Regions from separate parts of the Homo sapiens genome. Here region 2 is linked to region 1. The links come from fine-mapping of genetic effects on gene expression. A gene starts in region 1. The other region holds a variant in brackets. All regions are shown on one strand. Distances are between the middles of the regions.

Region 1 (5,376 bases):
GCCCACATCTTTGTCACTGAGGGAACCAGGTAAGGGAATGTGGATGGGCAGGTATCATGTATCAACAAATATTTATTGTGCCCCTATTGAGCTTGCACATGGTTACAAAGACATGGTGCATGCACCAGTATTTGAAGATGATAATCCCCATTGGATGACCCCTGAGATGACTTTATTCATCTACAATTTCTTATTGGACACCTACTACTTTCCAGGCACTGAGAGGGTGCTGGGAATAAATATTATACACCAGTAAGTGAATATGAAAGATTGCATCCTAATGTAAAGAGTGCCATAAAAGGATTTGTTAGAAACAATATGGGAGAGAATAACAGGAAGAGGGTGTTTTGTTTTATGTGTCAGTAGGCAAAATCCTCCCTGAGACTTTAAATGGAAAAAGACCTGAAGGATGAGAAGGAGCCATTTGTATGAAAGGCCAGAGAAAAATGAAGGGGCAGAAAAGGGCTTGGTGTTTTAAAAGAATGATCGTAAATCCAGGGAAGCCAAGACTGCTGATGAAGAAAGAAACTGGCATGAGCTTGGCTGGAGAGGCAGGCACCTTCCATGTTAAAGCAGGTGAGTGGGTGGAGAGGAGTGGCTAATAGTGTGGCCACCAGAATCAGACAAGCTCAGCTAGAGTCTGGCTCTAAAACTTCTCTAGCTGTGCAGCTCTAGGCAAGTCAGTTACCTTCTCTAAGCCTCAGTTTCCTCATCTTTAAGTTAGGATCATTCTATGGCTCCCTCACTGGGTCAAGAAACACATTAATTAGTGTACTCTGAACAGTGCGCCTGGCACACAGTGTATGCTATGTCATGGTTTGCTATGACCTCTTCCAAGCTCAGTGAGAAGTTGTGGAGGATTTGAAGCAGGGGAGAGACACAACCTGGTTTTTCTTTAACAGATGATCAGCCGTTCTGTGGGCTACTGGTCATCAATAAGACAAAGAGTTGGAAGAGACCCTAGAGGTCATTTACACCAACTAGTTTCCCAGTGGTTCTCTCTAGGAAGGGGAGGGGGCGGTGCCTGGAGAGACATCACTGAAAGGCAGAAGAGTGGCTGTTCCTCAAGTGTGTTGGGCAGGAAAGAAGGTTGAGAGGCGGCCGACCACGACTTGTGGAGAAGGACTCCCAACACCTGGCCAGTGGAAAGCCCACTATTCCCCTTTTCCAGATCGTCCCAAGTCCCACATTCTGCTGTGCAGCCGGCTCCTATTTAGCCACTGTCAATGTCACTGTTCTTGGATTATAAGTGCCTCAAGGACAGCAGCCATTTCCTTTCCACTCTCACTGTACAGTGACTGACACAGGCCCCACACAACTGGGTCCTCTGAGCTTTTGAATTATTGATTGGAAAAAGGAAGATGGAGTCACAGCATTTTAGTGCCACTCCTGGAACCATACAGTCTATAAGGGATCTAGAGGGCCTTTAGGAGGTCCTTTAAGTCATGCCCCTGCCCCAGGGCCATCCTTCCTCAAATCACTCTAGCAGGACTCTTTGCCTCCTGGTTCTCCAGAGAACATTCTGCATTCTGTACTTTGGAAATGCATCCTGGAGGTCACAGCCTATGCAGGGAAATCCTTCCAAACTGCTTCCCCAGACCCCTTCTGCTGCTCTTTACAATGGGAGCACGGGCTATTTCCTGCACGAAGGGGCTCTGGCCATGAGCAAATGCATGGGATAAAAGCCCTCCTGTCTCCAGGGACGTCTGCAGAGACATCTTGGGGGAGGCCATACCAACCCCCTCTGACTGGCTGGAGCTCAGAGCTGCTAGGGGGTGGGGAAGAGTCCTTCAGGTTCCTCCCGGATTCAGCTCTCTAGACCCCGCTAGCTAGCTTCCCAGCTCCTGCGGGACCGCGGCCACCTCCCCTCTGGCTTTGCAGGCATTACCTCTTCTCAGCTCTGGCAGGACTTGCCCTACCCTGGCTCCACAACCACCACCCATCTCCCTCTCACAGACCCCAGTCTTCTTCCCAATTCTGCAAACTCCTCATTCTCTGGTACCTCTCAGGGTCTTCCCTAACCCTGGCGATTCCCCTCCCAGCCTCCCTCTCCTCTTACCCTTCCCAGCCCTAATTCTTATCCAGGTCCCCTTTCCTGTCCCCTCCCTTTAGGTCTCGCTGCTGGCCCCCATTCTTCTCTCAGTCCCCACAAGCTCGCCGCTCCCTAATTCTCCTTCAGGTCTCGTCTCCCCCATCCCCTAGCCTCCCCCATCCCCCTACCTTTTTGACTCCTTGACCTGTCCTCCAACGCGTCTGCTGTCCCCTCCCCGCCAAGCTTTGTCGCGCAAAGATCCACGACCGCCTCCCACCCCAGTTCCCCCTCTGCAGCTGCCCGGCAACCCCGCCTTGCCCGGGAAGGGCCTGCGCGCCGCCCCCGCTCACCTGTTGTGCAGACCCGAGCAAGCTGGGCTTCGCCTTCTCCAGGTCGGGGTCCTGGTCCCGCGGCAGCAGCCCCTTCTTGGGGTGCATGTGCCGACACAGGCAGGTGACCCCGCACAACGCGAGGATGCTGGTGGCTGTGCCCAGCGTGGCGCCCAGCGCGATCACAGGCACCGACAGCACCATGGTGCCCGCTCCCGGCGAGGGGCTGGGTCCCGCAGCCGCTCACCTTCCCCGGGCCGGGCCCGCCTCCAGGCAGCTCCCGGGATCCGGGCGAGCCAGCAGCTCTCCCGCCGCCAGAGGGGCGGGGACGGAGGGAGGGAGGACGGCTGCGAGGACGTCAGAGGAGGCTGGACCCGCAGCCACGTCAACCGGCAACCCCCTCCCCGCCAACACGTGACCGGACCCCCACCCCAACAGGAGCCGGAGCCTTCCAGGTGGAAGGAGCCTTGGGGTTGTTTCAGGCCATTCTTAATGCTTTGTGTACAACAGGGGACAACTGGGCCCAAGAAGTGCTGGAGCTTGCGGAGGTCACACTGTGTTAGAGGACAAACCTGGGCTCCAACCAGATCTGCGACTCTAGGAGTCACTTTCCCAGACTACTAGCTCCTTGCTCACCCTTCTACCCCAGCAGCTGGCCAAGCTGGCTGTAAAATTGGGTCTTCCGGGAGCTTTTTCAAACACAAAGCTGGAGATTTCCCAGCTCCCCAACCTGGGAGATGGTTCTTACAGGGAAGAGGAACAGGCCACAGGTAGAGGGAACAGATGGGATGTTTGGGTTGAGGCTGTACCTGTGTCCTGCTGAAGATGGACAATACAGCTGCATCCCCTTAAGGGTTGCCCAAGAGTTCACCTTTATTACCTAATCAGCAGGTATTCGCACCTTTATATATAGTTGAGGAAGCCGAGGCTCAGAAGAGAGGTGCACAGGTAGAAAAATCATCACCCTGAACCCAAGCTTATGTTTGCAGATTCCAAGTCCACACTCAAACGGACTTGTCTTAGGAGGATAAAGAAGATAAAATGCAGCAGCTAGGAGTACACACTTGATTCAGAGAGGGTGAGCATAAAACTATGCTTAGAACAAGGGGAAATTAGAATTCCGGGCATGAGGACTGTCTTAGCTCAAGAAAACAGTGGCTTTTTAGTGTTCTTCATTATATGGAGTGTTGAATTTAATTCAGCAGATATTTGCTGTGGGTTGGCTGTGCTCTAGGTGTGCTGGGCATGTGTGAAAAGGGATGTAGGTGATTTCATCCACAACAGAGCTTTCACATTTCTATGAGCCAATGTCTCCTAAATCTATAGCCTCTCCAGCCAGACCTTTTCCTCTGAGCTGTAGCTGTGACCACCACCTGGGAACCCACCCGTCCTCCAGTTTTTCAGCTATCTACACTTGCATAAAAACCCACCGATGACTTACTGGCTTAGACCAGTTATTGTGTTACTTGTCATGATTTCATGGGTTGGCTGGGCTCAGTTGGGTGGTTTTCCTGCTCAACATGTTGTCTTCTGGGACTGCAGTCATCTAGGGGTTCAGCTGGACTGGGACATCAGCTCTCCAGACACCATTGCAGATGGTGCAATGGTGAACTCACGTGGTGAGCAGTAGGTGCTGGCTGCCACTGGGATCACAATGGGGCTGTCAGCTGGTGCATTTTGGTTGTCCTCTATGTCACCTCTCCATGGTGCTGGAGCTGCTCACAGCATGCTGGCTGGATTCTAAGAGGAATGAAGCAGAAGCTGCCAGTTGTCTTAAGGCCTGGGTTCAGAAATTCTAGAACACTATTTGATCAAAACAATAGTCTCCCTCTAGTTCTTTCCTTCAGTGACATCAAAAGGAGGTGTCCAAAATACAAAGCTGATCATGTCACTCACAGCTCTCAAAGGTTCTCCAAGAATAAACCCAAGAGACTCAACCTTTATCCAAATCCCTTTGTGATGTGGTCCCTGCTAAGCCTTCCAGACTCCTCTCTACACACTTCCCAATGTGCCCCTGAGCCTCAGCCACCCCATGGACTTGGGATTCCTTCAACAAGCTAACATCTTTAGAGTCTCCATGTTATCACCCATGGGTGCATATAGCAGGCACTCAGTAACCGTGGAATAATTCATATGATCATCTTATGCAGAATTTCCAGTGTTTTGAAGGAATCCCATTTGTGATATGAGCTCCATTTTAGTAAACTGACTTTTCCACAAGTATTTATTGTGTGCCTGCTGTATGCCAGGCACATTTTCCTACTGATCCCCATTTGCTGCAAACTGTAGAGCTGAAGCACTGCAGTCCCTGGTGACAGCCTTAGCAATCTCTCACATAAGAGCTGCCCTGGGAGGTTTTCTTGGCTCCGGGCCTGGCAATGCAAAATGTTTTGTGGAAATAGAGGTTTAATTAATGCTGTCAGCTCCAGGTCTCCCATGCTCAAACGGCTGCCCTGGGAGACCATCAATGCCACTACTCATAACAGGATCTGGGGTGGGGTTAAAGGGGAAGGATGAAGAACACTTAATATCAGAAAATGTCTGATGGGGAATCAGACACCTGTCACATGATCCATTGTTACTATGGTTACTGGGATGACAGCAGCTGCAGTGGCCTTCATTTATAACAGGAAGAGGGACCCCAGCCCAAGAAGAAGAGCTTGCCTTGTGCCTCTTTCACACACAGTGAACCTATGGCAGAGCTAGGAATAGACCCCAGGGGATCCAAAGCCCAGTTGAGTGATCAGGACTCTGGGCTACCTTTGCTACCCAACCAGTCACCCTCATATATCTCATCAAAGATACGATGTTTGCTTCTTGGCTACTGATATGCAGACAGTGGCCTTTAATGACAACCCACAGAAAAAAGGCATCACTAGGTTCCTTTGAAAAATGAGAGTATGCCTATTGGGAAAGGCAGTTAACTGAGTCAGCTGAGTGGATCAGTTAAGACAGTCTGAGGCTGGGACCCACAAATAATTGGAAGTGCTGAGGCCACATTTCTAAGAGCAGACA
Region 2 (5,376 bases), 70 kb before region 1:
TCAAGACAGCCAAGTCAGGTATTATTATGATCATTTTTATCATCATCATCTGTATAAGACAAATGACACAGCCAGTTAGTGAGAGGGCCAGGACTGGAAGCCAGGGTATCGGTTTTCCCAGCTCCCCTGTCAGAGGCCAGATCTGGAGTAGTGGGAAGAGGAGGCAGGGGGCAGGTCTTGCCCCTTGCCAGGCCTCTGCCCCTTGCCAGGCCTCTGCCCCCTGTATCTCTGCTTCTGCCTCAGCTGTCCTGGGTGAGGTGGGAGGCACCTAGCATTTAGCAGGTGATTCTCCCACCCTGCCCTGGCTCTATGGCTCATAGCCAGTGGCTTGGAGAGGCAGGGCCAGATCTCAGGAGTGGAGGGCAACCTCTTCCCTGGCTTCTAAAAGAATCCAGAGCCCAGTGGGGCTCATGTCCCATTCCAGGTTCCAGCATGCCTTGCCTCTGCTTGCTCGGGCTGCCTACGCACTAGCTACATACACCTCTAGCTTCATGTTTCATGTTGGAGTGTGGGGAGAAAACTGGGTTCTTAGCATTAGAGAGGGAAGTGGCAGGTGGCAGATACAAGCTTAGCTCTGACCTGGGTGCACCTCAGCTCTGTGTCCTTTTTTTTCCCTGACCTGAAGCTGACCCCAGCAGAAGTCCCCCAGCCAACCCCTCCACCCAACAACCCCCCACCCTCCCATCCTGCCCCCAGCCATAGTGGGAGCTGGGAGGATTGCAGCATCTAGTGCCTTCCAAGGCTGTTCCTGGAGCGCTGCTTGTAAACCCAAGCCAAGCTTTGTCCCACGTAGGGAGAATGGAAGGTGACTGCAATGTCCCTGTGCCTTTGGCTCCATCTCCCCATTCTGTGGTTCTTTGGGGGTTCCTGCTTCCCTCAAACTGAACACTCTCCTGTCCAACAGCCTGATGGCTTAATTATTGCCTGGAATTGCCCGGCCTCCGATGCTGGAATCAAAGATTGCCTTCCGAAGTATTTTTGTTAAGATGGCAATAAAAAGAAATCAATCTCACTCTTTGAACACACCCAGTGTCCAGGATCTTTCTTTGGTGTGTATTCTCTTTCTTCGTTTCCTGTGAAAACCTCGAGGACCCCAAAGCAGGGGTTAGATGTTTAAGGAAAAGCAGGTTGGTGAGAAGGGCTCAAGTGCCCCTTGATTTCCCTGATTCTATAAACTGCCAGATTCCCTGTATCCAGCACCATGCCAGGCCCTCGGAGGAAAGGAAGGGCATGCATGCACGAAACCACTCAGTTATATTTCATTTCTCTGCTCAAAAGTGAGGTGTTGCTAAGTCAATTTTACCTTTTGTTCCCTAAAAGTAAGCGAGAAGTTCTGGAAAAACAATCACCGTTTCGGACAGGAGGCTTTAGAAGGGTCAGGGGCTGTCCATGTGCCAGTGCACTTTAGGGGCCACCTGGAGGCATGACCCTCCCCACCAATCCAGGTGTCTGTGTGTCTGGCACTGGCAAGGCTCTGCCCACCTAGATCTGAGGCTTCTCAAAGTAACCAAAGCTGCCTCCTCTGCCAAGAGGAAGCCTCCTCACCTGTGCATTGCCCTGGCTTAATACCAGTCTCAGAGAGCTTCTCTCAGGCAGGAAATCCCCTAGTCTTGCCCACAGATCCCCTTTCTAGAAGGTTCTAACTTGCCATCCTCCACAGTTCTTGGCCAAAAAGCATGGCCATAGAAATGGAGGACTACCCAATTTCCGAGAGATGCAAAGATGTCGTGAAACCATTCCCAGGGCCTTCTCTCCCAAGGTCAATGTATGAAGCAGTGACTGGCTGGCTGCTCTCTCTCTTCCTGGGGAGGGAAGGAGCCAAATTGGAAGCTGTAAAACTGAAATGGAAGTCAGAGCAAAAGGGACAGTGAGGACTTGTCAACTTGGGATGGAAAAGATTTTCAGTTTCTGTTTCTTGGCTTCAGTGGGGATTGTTGGGCTAGCACATTAAAACAGGAAGAGGAAACTTGGGTGAGAGACAGAAATGAATTGGAAGAGGGAGGCCTCTAGCCATGACCAGGTGACCATCTGGTGGGTGGATGTGTGACCCAAAGCCCCTCCTAGCCCGGAGACCTATGCATGTGAGAACACAGAGCCCAGCCTCTTCTCAGTCGGTCTTTTCCTAGTTCTGCCTCCTTAACTGGGGCAGCTTCCTTTGTATTGAAGATACCCACTATGCAATAGTGTCTGAGCCTGGCCTAGTCAATTCCCTCCAGCAAAATGGATGCCCTGTGTTATGTTTTCTTTGCGTTAGAAACAATAGTCATGTGCTGACCCAGCTAGAAAATATGATGCACTTGATAAGACACAGTGGGTGAGGTCTGAGAATTGTTGTCTTAGTACTTACCTATCCAGTCCCCAAGGTCAGCTGGGAGGTTGGAATAAAAACAATCCAGGATCATCATGACAGGTTTAGTCCAGAGCTCTCCACCGCCATCAGCAGCACCACCACCTTCCCCTTGATTGCTCCAAAGGTCCCAAATTCTGTGGGTTGGAGTTGAAATGCCTCAATAAGCACTAGCATTTGCAGAACAGTCTCAGCCAGGCATTCTCTGTGCCTTCTCTCAAGAGGTAGTGACCTGGTAAC[T/A]CTTCAAACCTCCTTGCAAAGAGCTGCTCAGCCACAGTGGATAGATTTTGCCCCTCCTGGTAGCCTTCCACTCCTTGGGGAGGGCTTCTGATTTCTGCAGCCATGTAATGAATGGAACAGGCACAGTTCTTCATAAAGGGGTTGTTGTGAATGGGGACAGAAGGGTTCTGGGGGGTGGTCGAGCCAGCAGGTGTTAAGGCAAAACACTTAAAAGCAGGAGATCTAATCAGAGGTAACAGGTCTGGGGACCTAGCTGGCTTCATTTAGCTTTACCTCTTAAATGGTATAACATAAACATCTTGTCAGGGGAATGGGTTGTGATTCACCAAGAGTTGCCATATACATTGTATTTCAAATGCTAAGTTTCAGAACAACAAATACAACAAAATCTGAATAAGCATTGATCTGCCTTTGAAAATACTTTGTGATTTATACAACGCCTTGAGGTTAGCTTTCCAAATATTGATTCTTGATGGATAGAAAAAGACCAGAAGATGGAAAGTTAAATTGACTTGAGTCTTTCTAAACCTTTTGACACACCCTAGAAGTTGCTCTTTTGAATAAATAAATCCCAGATAGGAATGTATTTCTCATCTAGCTTTTTCTCTTGATGTCAAGTGTCAGAGAAATAATTCTAGCTTTTAGAGGTTGGTGGTTGTTTAGAAACTGGAAGAAAAAAAGGAGAAGACAGTATTCTCCAATCATAGTGCTATGATTCAAGTGAGTCTTGTGAGAAAAAAGACGAATGAATGGTTTCCCTTTTGTATCTGGGAGCAGGAAAGTTTGGAACAACTTCTATTCTGTGCTAACCGCAAGGTTGATTATTTTTGGATGTCAAATCCTAGACTCTCACTAAATTGGGGACTGGAAATATTTTGCATATTCAGAAGAAATCTCAGCTATGGAGAAAAGACTGACTCACAGTTGTAGAATTGAGATTGGGAATTATTAATTTGGAGTGACTTCTCTCACTCCAAATTAAAGGAAAAGGGGCTCTTTTCCTTTCTCTTAAGTCCTTTGTTAATAACATCCTGGCTGGGTGCGTGGAAATCACCCTGTGGTCTTCACTACTCAGGGATAGCGATGCTTATATCCGATGTGATAAGAACACCGATGTGTTGGGGCTAACAGAGAACACAGACCTAGGACAAGATGCAAATTCTGGCGGATCTAAGCACCGTAAATCTTGCAAGTTCTACACCTCCATGGTGGAGCCTGTGGCTTGCTTCTCTCAAAAGGTTGAAGCAGCCAAAGCCAGCATTTGCTCTCCCATCTGCCTTGGTCTTACTCCTTCTGAGGTCTTGCAGCATCCTGTTGCCAGAATGGATTGTTCCCTGGACTCCAGTGATCCTCCTTGGAAGGCAACAGCCTCCTCCCAGGCTCTCCAGATGAGCAAGGCAGGATATAGATGAGGGGCAGCTGGTGCCATCCCTGGGACCTCTAGAATGTAGATTCTCCATGCTGCTAGCTGCCACCACTGTCACCTCATACTGGAATTGGCATTCGTATATTTCTTTTCTTTATATGTGTGTCAGGAGTGAGGTGCGTGACAGTAATAGTTGCTTATTGAGGGAAACTTTGAAAGTATGCAAAATTACAAAGATGATCCACCTGTAAGGGGTTGTCACTGTTAAAACATTGGTATATTTCCTTCAAGTCGTTTACTGGGGCTTGTTTTTAAAGCATTATTGGAACCATAGTCTACTTCCAGTCCTATTGTTCTCACACTATCTTATTTCAACACCATTTTTCCATGTCATAAAAGATTCTTTGAAAACATTTTTCTATAGATGAATAGCATTCCATTATATAAATGTAACATCATTTACGAAATCTTATCTAGTATTAGACATTTAAATGTTTTGCCTTTGTACTGCTATACACAATGATACAAGTCAGCATATTGGTATGCCGGGTTTGCATACTTCATCCATAACTTATGTTTCTTGAGCCATATTGCCAAATTGTTTCCTAAAGGGTTGCACCTGTTAATTCTGCATCATCAGTACAGGAGACACCTTTCTTACCACCTTTACCAATAGAGATATTATCATCTTTTAGAAATCTGTGCCAATGAGACAATGTACTACGCTGTGTTTCTGTTATTAGTGATGCTGAATACTTTTCATTTGTTTATTATCCATCTGAATTCTTCTGTGAATTTTTGTTTCCCCTGGACTTTTCCAGATATAATTCATTGGGCTACACCAATCAGACAGACTTTGATTTTTGTCCCTTGTTTTTGAGACAAACCATAACATAAAGAAGTTTATTTTTTACTACAAATTTCCTAGGTGCTTGTGTAGCTCAGAACCCTAAAACGTCAACTAATTTCCTCTTGCCCTCTGATCTGTACACCTTCACTCCTCGGCAGGTGTTCCCTCATCCCACCTTTTGGAGGTGGGTAGGGTGGTGGGCTGGATGTCGCACATGTTGTTTCAGTGAGAATGGGCGAGGGCCATAGATTCTGAGGGTTTGACAGAACTTTAAAGGTTTTCTGGGCATTGCCGAGTTGGTGCTTTACATGCCCACATAGGAGCCATGAGTTACAGTGGGAAACGTGCATAGGACTCAAAGCTCCATCTCCCATTTATTAGCTGTGTGACTTTGGGCAAGTTGCTTGGCCTCTCTGAGCCTCAGTCTCCTTACCTTAAAATCATTTAGTAAGATTAACCAGTGGTTGTCAACCTTTTGTAGTCTGTTATTTACCTTCCTCCCCTGTCCCCACTGGAGCCCCCATTTTTTAAAAGATTTTGATCTTTAGCATTTATTAATTGATCTCTTGGACA

Which allele goes with the higher level. Positions count from the first base shown, and alleles are read on the strand shown. Sizes are in standard deviations (SD) of each study's normalised expression.
With allele A in place of T in region 2, the expression in thyroid of the gene that starts at base 2,699 in region 1 is higher (large effect, 1.0 SD a copy in GTEx).

Evidence for each region. PIP is the estimated chance that this variant, and not a neighbour inherited with it, causes the effect.
Region 2: its variant is fine-mapped to the expression of SYT13 in thyroid (GTEx, PIP 0.97).

Annotation. Positions count from the first base shown.
Region 1 is chr11:45,283,643-45,289,018 of GRCh38, forward strand. SYT13 (synaptotagmin 13) reads right to left here and starts at 2,699. Exons shown (of 6, transcript NM_020826.3): 1 at 2,383-2,699. The coding sequence starts at 2,565. RefSeq lists an enhancer at 2,094-2,880.
Region 2 is chr11:45,213,720-45,219,095 of GRCh38, forward strand. The region is part of intron 5 of PRDM11 (PR/SET domain 11); the gene reads left to right. Among named protein-coding and RNA genes, the nearest start is that of PRDM11, 70 kb to the left of the region's middle. RefSeq lists enhancers at 1-225, 5,287-5,376. The variant T/A (reference allele first, on the strand shown) is at 2,588.